Regions from separate parts of the Homo sapiens genome. Here region 2 is linked to region 1. The links come from fine-mapping of genetic effects on gene expression. Tissue or cell type: whole blood. Region 1 holds a variant in brackets; the other region holds the start of a gene. All regions are shown on one strand. Distances are between the middles of the regions.

Region 1 (7,852 bases):
TGTTATGCTGACAAGCTCTCGTGCCCACCTATGTCCAGACTGGGCCCTGCTGTCGTGACTGAGGGCAGAAAGCAGAGGCTCTGTCTTTGCCTGGGAATCCTTGAGTTGAGTACCTGAGTCAAAGCACCTCCCGTTGCCTTTAGAACTGCTCAGAATGTTCTTGGAGATATTTTACTTGTACTCAAGAGCAGTTGTTTTTGAAATTCGGTCTGGTTTAGTAGTTAAAGCACAGATTGCCGGAGTGTGACTCCTGACACCACCAGTCACTAGCTTGACCTCAGGCAAGTTACTCACCCTCTATGTGCCTCACTTTCCCCATCTGAAAATGAGAATAATAGTAGGACCTACCTCACAGGGCTGCTGTGATGTTTAAATGCATTAATAGATGTAAATTCCCTAGGACAGGTACCTACATTCCTACAACTTATTAAGAATTATGTTAGCTGTTACTCTATAGCAACTGTAGAAAGGGCAATTTATTGTCTGAGAGTAATATGTGTAAGCCATAGAATTTCTGAGGGTTTGCCAGCTTCTTTGAAAATAAAGGGAAACTGTGGCATTAGCAAACTGACACAGCAGTGGGCCTTGGTCTAATGGGTTTATAGGTGAAAAGATTTGAAAAGTTTCTGGATTTCCATACTGCAAACCCTGTTTTGTTAACTCTGTTTCATTTTGAAATTTGCAATCCCCCTCTCTCCACATACAAACTGACATGTGAACTCCACAAGGGCTGGCATGTGTGTTTGATCAATGTTGTATCTCCACTGCCTGAAATGGTGCTTTGGGATGTAGTAGATGCTCAATAACATCTGTAAATCTAAATTAAATTTAAATACAGACCTTTCATCTAAGTGAACACAAGGGGTTTTGAAGTCGTCATTGGTCAACATTATCTGAGTTTTCACAAGACCTCAGTGTATTTGGCAAAGCATTTCACAAGTGATAAACAAGGCATCCAGCATTTAAAAGCAAAACTCACAGAGCATTCTATGGGATGATGCTGCTCTAAAGCATTCATGCTTCTGTCTGGAAATTCGCAGCATTACGATTCTTAAATCATGGAGTTCTCATAAACCAAAGAGATCGAGTGCATTTTTGAAAAATGAACTCCTTAAGGACAGGGCTTGAGTTGATGCAACTGACTCTGCAGGACACCCCTACCCCGGGTTCCCTCACTGGGACAAAGGCCCTTCATGGTTTCTGATGATGGCGTTGGCTCCCAAAACTAGGTTTTCAGACTCTCTGGCCCCAAAAACAAGTATTAGGAATGACCAGGAAATTATCCCAGGGGACTAGCATTAAAGCACAGAGGCCCATCAAGTCCCCAAGCCCAGAGGCTGCCATATTCTGTACCTACCAAGTCAAGCATGAAGAGGTCCACCCCTTGCCCTGTGGAGAGAGCCACCAGGGTTGTGCTACTGTACAGTGTATAAACTATGGTCACAATGTTGCAGCCAGGCTGCAGGGCATCCCTTTCAGAAGGCTTGTCCTCTGAGGTCTGTGGAAGAAAGGAGAGAAACACGGTGTGTTATTGTTTCAGGAGAGAACCCTTTGTCAGAGGCATGGGATTCAGATCTCCTTGAACCACTGAAGAAAGTGCAGTTCTTAGAATTTTAAGCTGCCACAAATCTATCCAGAGAAAATGAGTTGCCACGTTACCGACAATTCTAGCTGAGCTATGGCAAAGGCCATTTTTGGATTTCTTCCTATTTTCCAAACGCATGTGTCTGCAGCCTGCCAAGAAAAGCACTCCCAGATGCTAAAATCGTAAGCTGCACTCCTGAGCCATGATAGTCACAACTCAGATCACTGAGCGGAGGGTGCAGCGTCTCACTCTGCACACTCAACAGCTATCTGAGGCACATAGCACTGTCACCTTCATGGCTCAGTGGGAGAACTCTGAGAAAAAAACAACCTGAGATGAACAATCTACTGCAGTTGGAACAGCTGCACAACTCACTCAACAGCAGGAAGCCCTGACTCTGCTTTCTCTCTGACTCTGTGGATGCTCCTCATTTGCTTCTCTTCCCCACAGCTCCTCTTCCTCTGGTTCTTTAAATCTTGGTCCTCTTTCTAGTTTTTTTCTAGCCTTTGGTGCATCCAGCCAGTGCAAATGGTTCTTCCTCACCCCCTTATCCAAAATTAGAACTCTTAGCTGCTACGTTTATATTGAGTCACGCCTCCCACCACACAAACACACAGACACACACACACACACACACACACACACACACACACACACTCTTGATGGGGTAGGAGAGAGAGTCCTGACCTAGAATGGCCCAATCAGCCTCTCTCCTCCAGATATCTAGAATTAGAGGACATTCTGGTGATGTAGAGTTAGAAGCCTTGTAAATCTGAATGGTCTCACCCCTATGCTCTGACCTCATGATTTGGTATTCCAGGTGCTTGATGCCATGAGCATCCAGGGCTACTTCTTTGAAGCTCCCAACACATTTTCATTCTTGGGTTTAGTGTCTGACTTCCAAGCTACACTGTAAGCAACCTGAAGGGAGGTACCCACTCCGTCTTGTTCATGTCTGTTTTCCCACCATGTAACACAATCTGGGCCATGATCATTGCATTTAATTAATACAGACAAACACACAGATACATATATATGCAAGTTTATACACACACATAAATATATACATGCATACATGTAGTGCTTTTCAGCATAAGAATCCTACAAACGTTTTTTAGATTTATATAATACTATTTCATTTTTTAAGTGATTAAAGTACATATTTTAAATTTAATTACTATTATGAATTAGTTTATTGCTAATATATAGAAATCCAGTTGGTTTTGTATGTTGATCTTGTGTCCTGTGACTTTGCTGAACTCACTCATTCTAGGGAGTGTTTTGGTTTTTTGTTTGTAAATTCCTTGGGATTTCCTATACAGATCATCATGACATCTGCAAAGAACGACAATGTTATTACCTGCTTTCCAATCTTTTTCCCTTCCATTATTTTTTTTGCCTTAGTGTGCTGACTATGACTTCCAGGGTTACATATGTTGAGTAACAGTAGTGAAGGAGGACATCCTTGCTTTGCTCCTGATCTTAGAGGATAAGCATTCACTCTTTCACCATTAAATACTAATGCTAGCTATAAATTTTTGTAGATGTACTTGATAGGGTTGAGGTAAGCTCCTCCTCTATTTCTTGTTTTCTAAGATTTTCTTTTTTTCAGAGACAGGGTCTTACTCTGTTGCTCTGCCTGGAGTGCAGGGGTGTGATCATGGCTCGCTGCAGCCTCCAACTCCTAGGCTCAAGCGATCCTCCCATCTCAGCCTCCCAAGTAGCTGGGACCACAGACATGCACCACCACCCACCTCTCCAGCTAATTTTTTTTTTGGGGGGGGTGGGGATGGAGTCTTGCTCTGTTGCCCAGGCTGGAGTGAAGTCACGCAATGTCGGCTTACTGCAACCTCTGCCTCCTGGGTTCAAGTGATTCTCCTGCCTCAGCCTCCCAAGTAGCTGGGACGATAGGCGTGTGCCACCATGCCCAGCTAATTTTTTGTATTTTTAGTACAGACGGGGTTTCACTGTGTTAGCCAGGATGGTCTCAATCTTCTGATCTCGTGATCCACCCGCCTTGGTCTCCCAAAGTGCCGGGATTAAGATGTGAGCCACTGCACCCGGCTAATTTTTTTTTTTTTTTTAGATAGGGTCTTTTTACTTTGCACAGGCTGGTCCCAAACTTCTGGCCTCAAGTGATCCTCCCACTTCAGCGAGTTTCTTTTTTAAGTCATGAATGAGTTTTGAATTTGTTCAAGTGGTTTTTCTCCATCAATTGATATAATTATATGATTTTTCTTCTTTAGCCTGTTGATATGGTGGATTACACTGACTGATTTTGAATACCGGACCAGCCTTCTATTACCAGAATAAATCCCACTCAGTCATGGTGTATAATTTGTCTTATGTGTTGTTGAATTCTACTTCTCAATACTTTGTTAAGGGTTTTTTCATTTATTGATGAGGGATCTTGGTCTTTGGTATTCTTTTTTTTTTTTTTTTTTTTGAGATGGAGTCTCGCTCTGTTGTCGGGCTGGTGTGCAGTGGTGCGGTCTCGACTCACTGCAACCTCCGCCTCCTGGGTTCAAGCGATTCTCCTGCCTCAGCCTCCCAAGTAGCTGGGATTACAGGCACTCACCACCACGCCTGGCTAATTTTTGTATTTTTAGTAGAGATGGGGTTTCACCATACTGGCCAGGCTGGTCTTGAATTCCTGCCCTCGTGATCCACCCACCTCGGCCTCCCAAAGTGCTGGGAATACAGGCGTGAGCCACCGCACCCAGCCGGTCTGTAGTAGTCTTTTGTTTTTGTTTTTTTGGAACTATTGTTACCAAAACACCAGGGGTTTGGTCTAGGCCTTGCTGCTTACCACACAAAAAGCCAATCACTAAGACAATAAGTACTGCAAAGGAAGAAGGCTTTAATTGGGTGCTGCAGCTGAGAAGATGGGGGAGCTCAGTTTCAAATCCATCTCCCTGACAGACTAAAACTAGAGGTTTATATAACAGAGAAGAAATGTGACAATGTGCAAGAATACAGGAACTAGAGAGGGGAAAGGAAGCAATAATGAGGAATGAGGGCTCCAGGCTTCTCATTGTCAGGATGTGGTGATCTGGTGACTTTCAG[T/G]TCTCTAATACTCTTTTTGAGAGGTCTGAAGTTCCTTTCCTGAGGAAGGAATTCATATAAAACAAATGTAAGCTTCAAGCTTTAAGAACAGAAAGGTCAGTTTCTATGTTTATCCGAAAGAACAGTCTATGAGATTATTGGGTCAGTTTTACTATCATTGTCTGGTTTTTGTATCAGAGTAATGCTGACTTTATAAAATGAATTGAAAAATGTTCCTTCCTCTTCTCTTTTCTGGAAGAGATTGAATAACCTTTGAACATTTAGTATAATTTTCTAGTGAAACCATCCGGGCCTGGAGATTTCTTTTTTGAATTCTATTTTCTAATAGTTGAGCCCTGAACCTAGTCTTTCAAATTATCTATTTTATATTGGGTGAGTTAGAGTACTGTGCTTTCTGAGAAGTTAGTCCATTTCATCTAAGTTATCAATTTTATGTGTGTAGAGTTGTTTATAATATTCCCTTACTATCCTTTTGATGGCTCCTAACTTTTTGAAAAACAAAACAACCTGAGATTAACAATCTAGGTCATAAATACATGATTCTCTGATTGTTTTCTCAACAGAAATTCCAAATAATTAAATTACTGGGTAAAAAATCTTTTTATACATATTGAAGTTTTCCTCCAGAAAGGTTGCATAAATTTATACTTTTACCGTCAGTGATAAGAGGGTTCTTTTTAATTTATTCTGGCAAACACAAGATAGTATTGTCTTTTCAACTTCATCAGTTTGGTGGAAAAAAGACCTCTTTTTTGTTTTAATTTCTATTTTTATGAGTGAGGTAAACTTTTTAGAGTTTATTGATCATTTTTATTTTGTAGGTTGTATATTTCATGTCTTTTATTTTTCTATCAACATATCCATCTTCTTGTTTATTTATTTGTTTGTTTGTTTGTTTTGAGATGGAGTTTTGATCTTGTTGCCCAGGCTGGAGTGCAGTGGTGTGATCTTGGTTCACTGCAACTTCTGCCTCCCACGTTTGAGCAGTTGTTCCTGCCTCAGCCTCCTGAGTAGCTGGGATTACAGGCGCCCACCACCGTGCCTGGCTAATTTTTGTAATTTTTTTTTTTTCTTTTTGAGACAGTCTCACTCTGTTGCCCAGGCTGGAGTGCAATGGTGCCATCTCACTCACTGCAACTTCCACCTCCCAGGGTTCAAGCAATTCTCATACCTCAGCCTCCTGAGTAGCTGGGATTACAGGCGCCCACCACCACACCTGGCTAATTTTTGTATTTTTAGTAGAGACGGGGTTTCGCCATGTTGGCCAGGCTGGTCTCAAACTCCTGAACTCAGGTGATCCGCCCACCTTGGCCTCCCAAAGTGCTGGGATTACAGACGTGAGCCACCACACCCAGCCTATATTCATATTTCTATTCACAGTATCTCCTACACAGTGTTTTCCTACTCTATGGGGAGAAATCAGGTAGATGGCAGAAGACACAGGTCAGATCTCGAGAAGAGTTTCTATGGCCTCCAAACAAGCATTTATTGATTATAGACTTAGGGGTGGATATTACGAATGTGGGATGTCCCACAAGGTTATCTCCTGTGCTATCTAATGCACCAAGCAGCTTGTCCATAACTTAGTTTAAATATATCCGTCAGGCTCCATGCCCACTTGCTGTAAAAGCAAGATTACTGAGTTAATCTTAGATTTTAAAATGGAAAACTGGGCCTCACAAAAGCAGTTGGAAAAGTTACCTGGAGATTGTTTCTAAGGCAGTCCCCAACTGTACCAAGCAAAGGACAATATGTACAAAGTCAGAGCTTCATTAACTCTTGATGATTGATTCATTCACTTACTTAATGCAAGACTTCAGGGGAAGAAGAATCGCTGAGTGGAGGAGACTGGAAACAATGCATTATGAAGCGCCCATGGTCTCTGGATACCCACCCAGCCAGTCCCCACCCTCCTAGGGTCTGGTCTTGACCATCTCATCATGTGTTTTGAGGGTGCGTTTTCCTACCAGTTGTATTTTGTTTGCTGTTTTTTGTTTTGTTTTGTTTTTGAGACAGGGTCTCCTCTCGCCCAGGCTGGAGTGCAGTGGTGCGATCTCGGCTCACTATAGCCTCGATCTTCCGGGTTCAAGGGATGCTCGTGCCTCAGCCTCCCGACTAGCTGGGACCACAGGCGCAGGCCACCGCACTCGGCTAATTTTTGTATTTTTAGTAGAGACGGGGTTTCGCCAGGGTGCCCACGCTGGTCTCGAACTACTGGGCTCAAGTGATCTGCCTGCCTCAGCCTCCCAAAGTGCTAGGATTACAGGCATGAGCCACCAGCAACATGCCCAGATTCTTCTATACCCTTAATTGGGAGATAAGGCTTCTGCCTGCGGGCTGTGAGTTCTTCCAACCGGCCCCTTCTTTGCTGTGGACTAAACAGGAACCACTGGGCTAGAGTCCTCTGGCTCTCGGCCCTGCAGGAGATTTTAATAAACAATTCTAGGCCTAAAGGAAAAGCAGGGTTAGGCTGAAAATGCACACAGGGCTCCTGTAAACTTCTTTTCATGAACCACCGGCCCAGGGCATTAAATAAGGTACTTAGTTGATCCGAACCCTCCAGGGAGACCTCCGACCCTTCTCTTCGTAGCCCCCAGCTCCCCTCCCCCCGGTTCCACTGAGGCAAGTGGACTGAGCCGCTCCACAGGCTAGGAGTCAGCCCGCCGGAAGGTCCCGCCCAGCCTTAAGAAGTCAATTAGCTGCTTTCGGGCGGCCTTAGGCGACGGGAGACTCCTGGACTCGGCACCTGCCCACTGTGCCTGTCCACCTGTGGCTACTGCAGCTGAGACCCCAGTGGGCTGAGATTGGACAGGGGCCACCAGGGACCCAGCAAGTCCTTCAGCTCGGTGAGTGAGGGATTTTCAGGAGTGCCAGGCCGCAGTATTCCCAGGGCTGGTGGGGTGGGACAGGGAGGCTCGACCCGGGCAAATCAGGCAGAGGCGCCGCTTGCTCCCTGCACCACCACCCACCTCCTGGGGCCACAGTGAGCATGAGCGGGGGGTGGAAGCAAGAGGCAGGGGACCTGGCCTGGGTCCCCAGCCCAAAGCCTGGGAAGCTGCCTACCCCTGTGTGGGCGCGGACACTGGGGACTCTGGCTTCTGGCGGTTCGGCCACCTGATTGGGTTTATGCTCTATGAGGGGAGTTGGAGTGTTGGCAGGACTGGCCCCTGCAGGACTGCAGGACTGCGGGAGCGGCGGTAG
Region 2 (7,852 bases), 110 kb before region 1:
CAGGACCTGGCCCATCACTACCCTATGTTTGTTACAGGAGAGAGGACCGTCCTCCCACAGGTCAGAGCTATTGTTAATCAAGGTGACAGTGCAAGATGCATTCCCACTCCTGACTTCTCGCTGTAAATAGGTTTCCTGAGTGGTGTTGGTTTATTTTCAATTTGGAAGCCAGTTCAATCAAATGTTTCACTAGATTCAAGTTTGATGAAAATACTAGCAAATCCCCCAACTAACGAGTCACTATAAGTAACTCAAGGCATCAGTCCTGCTCCCCACATAAGGGAGTACTGGTCCTGAGGAAATGGGACCACATATATAGGGAACAAAAGTGATACAATGGGCCATGAGGGTGTGATGAGTATCCCAGTGATTGCTTTGGGTAAATTTTGCTGGCCACATCGGTTTCAGTTCCTCTACATAGACAAGGAAATGCTCCTCATGACCGACAACAGCTCCTCCTGCACCGAGGCTGTCTAGTCATTAGAATGGTCTCTAGAAGACAATATCATCAGCAATCACTGCTAGCAAGGAGCTGGCTTCTGTGGTACTATGTTGTTGCTAATAGTTTTTGTTAGAGCAACTGCATTGTGGGAGACCTGATCCAGGGAAGGCAGAAACCAAAGCCTGTGCTCCCAAGGAGGTTATGGAAAATGAAGAAAAACACCAGCCCCTCTGCAGGAGGAAGCTGGAAATGGTTGGAAGGACCACCCATGGCTAGAGCCCCAGCACTTGGGTCATGACTCACCCTGGGTAGGTCAAGTACAGGCCCCACTTCTTCAGGCCTTGGTTGTGGATCAGACCCTGGATTCTTCCCCTCCGGGTACAGCCCAGTTGCCATGATGCTCCTTGAGTCAATGAGCTCTTTGGTCTGATCTTCTGCTCAAGCAAAGAAAGGGTCCGGCTTCAGTTCTCAGAGGCTGATAAGTACCAAGGTGGCAGAATATGGGAGTATCCTGCAGGTGCTCCCAGCATCTGCCCTGGCTCAGGTGCCAGAGGCTTGCGATTTTCTAGCTCTTGACCTCACACCCTCGATTGTTTGTTTTCCAATTCCTTCCTGAATAACGGGGTGAACATGCCACCCCTCCTGGTGGCGAATGGGGTTCCTCAGAACTGGGAGGCCACAGTCCAGATTCTGAGGCTCTTCACTAAGCAAGTGCTGGAGAGCAAAGCCACTCACTCACAACTCTCTCTCTTTCTCTTTCAAATTTGGGGAAGGGGAGGCCATCTGAGCAGTTTCTCTCACACTCCCCAGTAAGGAACTCATGAAGGACCAAGTGAGCTCTAAGCCCCCGGTAGAAACATTCAGCTGTTCCAATGAACTTCTTGTGATCCTGAAATCTGCAAAGTTAGAACCAAGGCAGACGTAGGTACTCCAGTTACCTAACACCACAGAAATATTGTTTTTATTTCATAAAATAATAAATTTAAATACTGCTATGGTTTCCTTGTTTGCCCCCTCCAAAACTCTTGTTGGAACTTATCTCCAATGTGGCAGCATTAAAATGTGGGGCCTTTAAGAGGTGATTAGGACATATGAGCTCTTCCCTAATGAATACATTAATCTATTCATGGAATAATGGGTTCATAGACCAACAGGTTATCTTGGGAATGGGACTGATGGCTTTTTTTTTTTTTTTTTTTTTTTTTGAGATGGAGTCTCGCTCTGTCACCCAGGTTGGAGTGCAGTGGCGTGATCTCGGCTCGGCTCATTGCAACCTCCACCTCCCAGGTTCAAGTGATTCTCCCGCCTCAGCCTCCCAAGTACCTGGGATTACAGGTGTGCACCACCACGCCTGGCTAATTTTTGTATTTTAGTAGAGACAGGATTTCACCCTGTTGGCCAAGCTGGTCTCAAACTCCTGACCTCAAGTGATCTGACTGCCTCGGCCTCCCAAAGTGCTGGGATTACAGGTGTGGGCCACTGCGCCCAGGCAGGACTGATGGCTTTAAAAGAAGAGGAAGAGACCTGAGCTAGGACACTCAGCCCTCTCGCCCTGTGATGCCCTACACCACCTTGGGCCTCTGCAAAGAATCCCCACAAGCAAGAAGGCCCTCACAAGATACACTTCCTGGACCTCAGACTTCCCAGCCTCGAAAACTGTAAGAAATAAATGTTGTTCTCATAAATTACACAGTTCCAGGTATTCTGTTATTAGCAACAGAAAAGAGACTAGGACAGATATCACAGTTAGATTGTATTCTACACATTGTGACTGGTTCTCCAGAGAAGCAATGCATAAAAAGAGGAATAATCGGCCGGGCACGGTGGCTCACACCTGTAATTCCAGCACTCTGGGAGGCCAAGGCAGGCGAATCACGAGGTCAGGAGTTCAAGACCAGTCTGGTCAATATGGTGAAACCCCATCTCTACTAAAAATACAAAAATTAGCCAGGCGTGGTGGTGCGCGCCTGTAGTCCCAGCTCCTCTGGAGGCTGAGGCAGAGGAATCACTTGAACCCAGGAGGCAGACATTGCAGTGAGCTGCGATTGCGCCACTGCACTCCAGCCTGAACAACAGAGCCAGACTCCGTCTCAAAAAAAAAAAAAGAGGAATAATCTCCAAAATAGTAAACAAATTCCTGCAGACAGGAAATATAATGGTAGATACCTGAGCTAGGAGAGGGGGAATGGGGAACTATTATTCAATGGATACAGTTTCAGTTTAGGAAGATAAACAAGCTCTGGGAATAAACAGTAGTAATGGTTACACAATGTGAAGGTACTTAATGCTACTGAACTCAAAGTTGGTTAAAATGGTACTTGCTATGTGAGGTATATTTTACCACTTAAAAAACTATAGGTGATTGTGCTTCTAAAAGAGTTATCAGTTTAATCTTCAATAGAAATCAATGGACTTTGTTCATTTTTAACAAAGTCAAAATATGCATACGAAAAGGTTATGGGGTAAAGGCAGAGGTAATTATTTTTTTCCCCGAAAGGTATTTTCTACAATGAATGTTTTTATGTAATAAAAAATGAAATGACAAAAGTTTAGAATGTTTGTGGGTTTTGTTCCTTAAATCCTTAATTACATAAATTAATATCTACATTATACAGATTAAGATACATATTTTTCCTCTATCTACAACATTTCTCCATTCTCTGTATCTTAAATCCTGACATTAAATGTCATTAAATTTCTTAAATCTCAAGAGAACGACTTGGTTACCAAGGAAGATATAATCCATAGCCTAGAGAGTGGGCGAATAAAAGCAGCTTCTAATGTTCTCAACTGCTTTTCTCCTGTCAACCAAATGTTTCTGTAAATAACTCATTTCTGTTGGTTTTGGGTAAGACGTGGGAGAAGGAAGAATCCCTGAATGGAGGAGTCTGGAAAGGATGCTTGACAAAACGCCCGCGCTCTCTGGAGACGCAGCCAGTCTCCTCCCTCCTAGGGTCTGGTCTTGACGATAGCATCTCGTGTTTTGGGGATGCCTTTCCTTACCAGATTCTTCTAAAGCCCAGCTGCACCCACCCTTAAGTGGGAGATAAGGCTTCTGCCCGCGGGCTCTGCGTTCGTCCACCCGGCCCCACGTTTGCTGTGGACTAAACAGGAGCCACTGGACTAGAGTACACTTGACTCTCGGCTCTGCGGACCAAAAATTCCAGGACTAAGGAATAGCAAGGTTAGGCTGAAACAGTCCACACAGGGCTTGCGGTAAACGTCTTTTCAGGAGCCACTCGCCCAGTGCAGTAAGTCGTGTACTTAGTTGACTCGAGCGCTCCAGGGAGACGCCCGACCCTACTCTGCGCCGCCCCGGGGCACCAGCTCTGCTTCCTCCAGGTCCACTGAGGCAGGCACGCCCAGCTCTGGGACAGTCAGTAAACAAGCCACGAACCGCGCCAGGGATCAGAGCACCCAGAGTCCCCGCCCAGCTGCCGGCACAGCCAATCGCAGCGCAGCCAGGCGGCGGGGCGGTGCCGGCCGAACCCAGACCCGAGGTTTTAGAAGCAGAGTCAGGCGAAGCTGGGCCAGAACCGCGACCTCCGCAACCTTGAGCGGCATCCGTGGAGTGCGCCTGCGCAGCTACGACCGCAGCAGGAAAGCGCCGCCGGCCAGGCCCAGCTGTGGCCGGACAGGGACTGGAAGAGAGGACGCGGTCGAGTAGGTGTGCACCAGCCCTGGCAACGAGAGCGTCTACCCCGAACTCTGCTGGCCTTGAGGTGGGGAAGCCGGGGAGGGCAGTTGAGGACCCCGCGGAGGCGCGTGACTGGTTGAGCGGGCAGGCCAGCCTCCGAGCCGGGTGGACACAGGTACCGCAGCCAGGCCGCGCCGCGCCGACTCAGGGCCTGGCCCGGCCAGACAGGGAAGCTCAGTCCCCGCACGCCAGACAGCGGTACTCCTGCTGGCGTCACCGCAAACATCCTCTGACCGCTACAGCCAGTGTGTGGCGCAGGCGTCATGTCCCCGGCCCTGCCACGCCTGGAGCCCTGGAAGCTGGCTGCAGGGCGCTGGCTTCCCGCGTGCGGCCATATGACCCCGTCCCTGATTTAGGGGAGCAGTTTGGGGTGTCGGCAGCACAGGCCCAAGTGAATGAAGGAGGGAGCAGTGCGTGCTCTCCTTCCCAGTTTTTCCTGGGAAAGCATTTCAGAAAGGTTTCATTTAAGGAGAGGTTGGGGCGGCGCGGTGGCTCACTCCTGTAATCCCAGCACTTTGGGAGGCTGAGGTGGGCGGATCACCTGAGGTCAGTAGTTCGAGACCAGCCTGGCCAACATGGTGAAACCCCGTCTCTACTGAAAATACAAAATTAGACGGGCGAGGCGGCGCACGCCTGTAGTTCCAGCTATTCAAGAGGCTGAGGAAGAATGGCTTGAACCCGGGAGGCAGAGGTTGCTGTGAGCCGATATCGCGCCGTTGAACTCCAGCCTGGGCCACAGAGCAAGACTCCATCTCAAAAAATAAATAAATAAATAAATAAATAAATAAATAAATAAATAGGAGAGATTGGAAAACTTATCTCAGCTTTTGGTGTTTGTTAGTCAGGAAGATGTGTGAAGGCCTCCTAACTCTTGGGGATCTCTTTGTCCCTACTTGGGAATCCCACCTTATCATTAGTGAGGTTTTGCCTGGGCACGAAACCTGGATTTTTTGCGATTGGTACAAAACCTGGATCAACCGTTTCCCGGTTTCCTAGTTGTTGCCTTAAGCTTCTCACACACAAGGTAGTTTCATACCGTTCTCATAACCTAAATTGTCATCGCATAAACTGTTTCAGCTCCTACAGCTCTGGACAGGCTGCTTTTCATTTTGGTGAGTCCATCCAGTACCTCCACGTGCCCTGTTTTTCTCCAGGCACATCCTTGGCCTCTTCCACAGTCCTTGGGTAAATGCTTGGGAGAATAATTTAAATATTTTTATTCTACCATGGTGGCCCTAATTTTTCAGGGGGCAGTAAGATGGCTTTTTAGGATTGGTCTAATCAGATCCTCATTTTTGTTCCCTTCCTAGGTTTTAAAACATGAATCCTACACTCATCCTTGCTGCCTTTTGCCTGGGAATTGCCTCAGCTACTCTAACATTTGATCACAGTTTAGAGGCACAGTGGACCAAGTGGAAGGCGATGCACAACAGATTATACGGCATGGTTAGTGAAACTTCCCCAGAAAGAATAGTCCTGGCTGTTGAGAAGTTTTAGTCAGAGAGTAGCTTCTAGAGGCCAGCTTTTACCAATAGCCTAATGTAATAACCTAATGGCGTGGATTATGAGCACAATGTGGACATTCATCCTTGTTGTGTCTCAGTTTGGAGAACAGCATCCCCAGAGGTGTCAAGCCTTCCCTTGCCATGGTTTCTCTTCCATCTCTGTCTGCAGATTCACTTGGTGAGGATGAGTTGGGTTTTAGGTAGAAGTAAAGAGCATCAGTTACATGTTTGCCTCTAGAATGAAGAAGGATGGAGGAGAGCAGTGTGGGAGAAGAACATGAAGATGATTGAACTGCACAATCAGGAATACAGGGAAGGGAAACACAGCTTCACAATGGCCATGAACGCCTTTGGAGACATGGTAAGTGTGCTGTGGACTGCCGAGCTCTGTGCTTCCTCTCTTCGGTTCTTTACTAAGGTAATCTCTTGCTTTTCAACATTTTATTTCCTTTTCCTTGAAGACCAGTGAAGAATTCAGGCAGGTGATGAATGGCTTTCAAAACCGTAAGCCCAGGAAGGGGAAAGTGTTCCAGGAACCTCTGTTTTATGAGGCCCCCAGATCTGTGGATTGGAGAGAGAAAGGCTACGTGACTCCTGTGAAGAATCAGGTGAGACAGTGTCAGGTTCAGACCTCCCATCTTCCCAGGAAAGCCAAGAAGTGATTGACATCTTTGTTTTGGTAGACTTTAAAGTGATGTACAGTTCACTTTTTAACAGTATTCAGATGTGTGAGCTGTTGTCAAAGTCTTATTATTTTTTTTTTGTGGATGACAGCTTTTTTTAATTCCCTTTTCAGGGTCAGTGTGGTTCTTGTTGGGCTTTTAGTGCTACTGGTGCTCTTGAAGGACAGATGTTCCGGAAAACTGGGAGGCTTATCTCACTGAGTGAGCAGAATCTGGTAGACTGCTCTGGGCCTCAAGGCAATGAAGGCTGCAATGGTGGCCTAATGGATTATGCTTTCCAGTATGTTCAGGATAATGGAGGCCTGGACTCTGAGGAATCCTATCCATATGAGGCAACAGTAAGTGGAGCTCCTTGTCATCATTCCAGCTCAGCTTTTGGAAGGTGGACACTTTAAGAGATAACAGATACCTTTTTCGGAATTCATATATTAGGGCTGGGTGGGGTGGCTCACGCCTGTAATCCCAGCCCTTTAGGAGGCTGAGCCAGGCAGATGGCTTAAGCTCAGGAGTTTGAGACCAGCCTGGGCAACAAGGTGAAACCTTGACTCTATCAAAAATACAACGAAAATTAGCCGGCTGTGGTGGTGTGCGTCTGTGGTCCCAGCTATGCTGAGGTAGGGCGATTGCTTGAGTGTGGGAGGTGGTTGTGCAAATGCACTCTCCAGTCTGAGTGACAGAATGAGACCCTGTCTCCAAAAAAAAAAAAAAGTTCACATATTAGATGGCAGAATATATATCTGCAAATTGTCAGTACTGTCATTATAAATTATTAGCCTTTGCACAATCCTGTGATTAGATGGGTAACATATAGCTGTTCTTGCTTCTATGTAACGTGAAGAATATACAAGCCATTCTAAATATACACATTTCTCTATTGTGAAAAATGTCTTATGGAAGTAAACCCAGAGGTCTCATTGAAGAGACTGGAGTCAATTTTCAGTTTCAGATTAACTAATAGCATTTCACTTCCTGGGATGATTTATAACAGTGGTGACTTGGAAATACTAAGCTGCACACTGCTGAGTGTTGTGGTTCTAACTCATGTTCTCCAGGAGGAGGACAGCAGTAATCAAGTCTTTTTTTTCCCTTTACCTTTGAAAGGAAGAATCCTGTAAGTACAATCCCAAGTATTCTGTTGCTAATGACACCGGCTTTGTGGACATCCCTAAGCAGGAGAAGGCCCTGATGAAGGCAGTTGCAACTGTGGGGCCCATTTCTGTTGCTATTGATGCAGGTCATGAGTCCTTCCTGTTCTATAAAGAAGGTAAGCATATTTTTCTTTGTAGAAATTGATGCAGAAAAAGAGTATCATGACATACGAGCATGATAGACTCTGGTTTGCAAGTAAAGTTCAGTGTAGATATTTAGGTGCTTAGCATCATAGTTGTTCATTCTGTACATGCAATATTTATACCTGATGTTTCCATTTGACATTATGTTGCGTATATCTCCATGAATATAAGTACTTCATAACTTTTTATAAATAGCTATATTTACTGTGTAGTTTAATATACTTAAAATATTC

What was found. PIP is the estimated chance that this variant, and not a neighbour inherited with it, causes the effect.
Region 2: CTSL starts here. The variant in region 1 is fine-mapped to the expression of CTSL in whole blood (TOPMed, PIP above 0.99).

The regions. Positions count from the first base shown.
Region 1 is chr9:87,835,726-87,843,577 of GRCh38, forward strand. It overlaps the pseudogene FBP2P1. Among named protein-coding and RNA genes, the nearest start is that of SPATA31E1, 43 kb to the right of the region's middle. The variant T/G (reference allele first, on the strand shown) is at 4,652.
Region 2 is chr9:87,722,145-87,729,996 of GRCh38, forward strand. CTSL (cathepsin L) reads left to right here and starts at 3,975. Exons shown (of 8, transcript NM_001912.5): 1 at 3,975-4,254; 2 at 5,450-5,585; 3 at 5,883-6,005; 4 at 6,106-6,252; 5 at 6,441-6,665; 6 at 7,429-7,591. The coding sequence starts at 5,460. RefSeq lists enhancers at 302-351, 3,766-4,287, promoters at 2,181-4,048, 2,399-4,020, 2,503-4,048, 2,515-3,947, 2,717-4,048 and 7 more and cis regulatory regions at 2,181-2,502, 2,570-2,572, 2,964-2,966, 3,032-3,034, 3,191-3,378 and 12 more.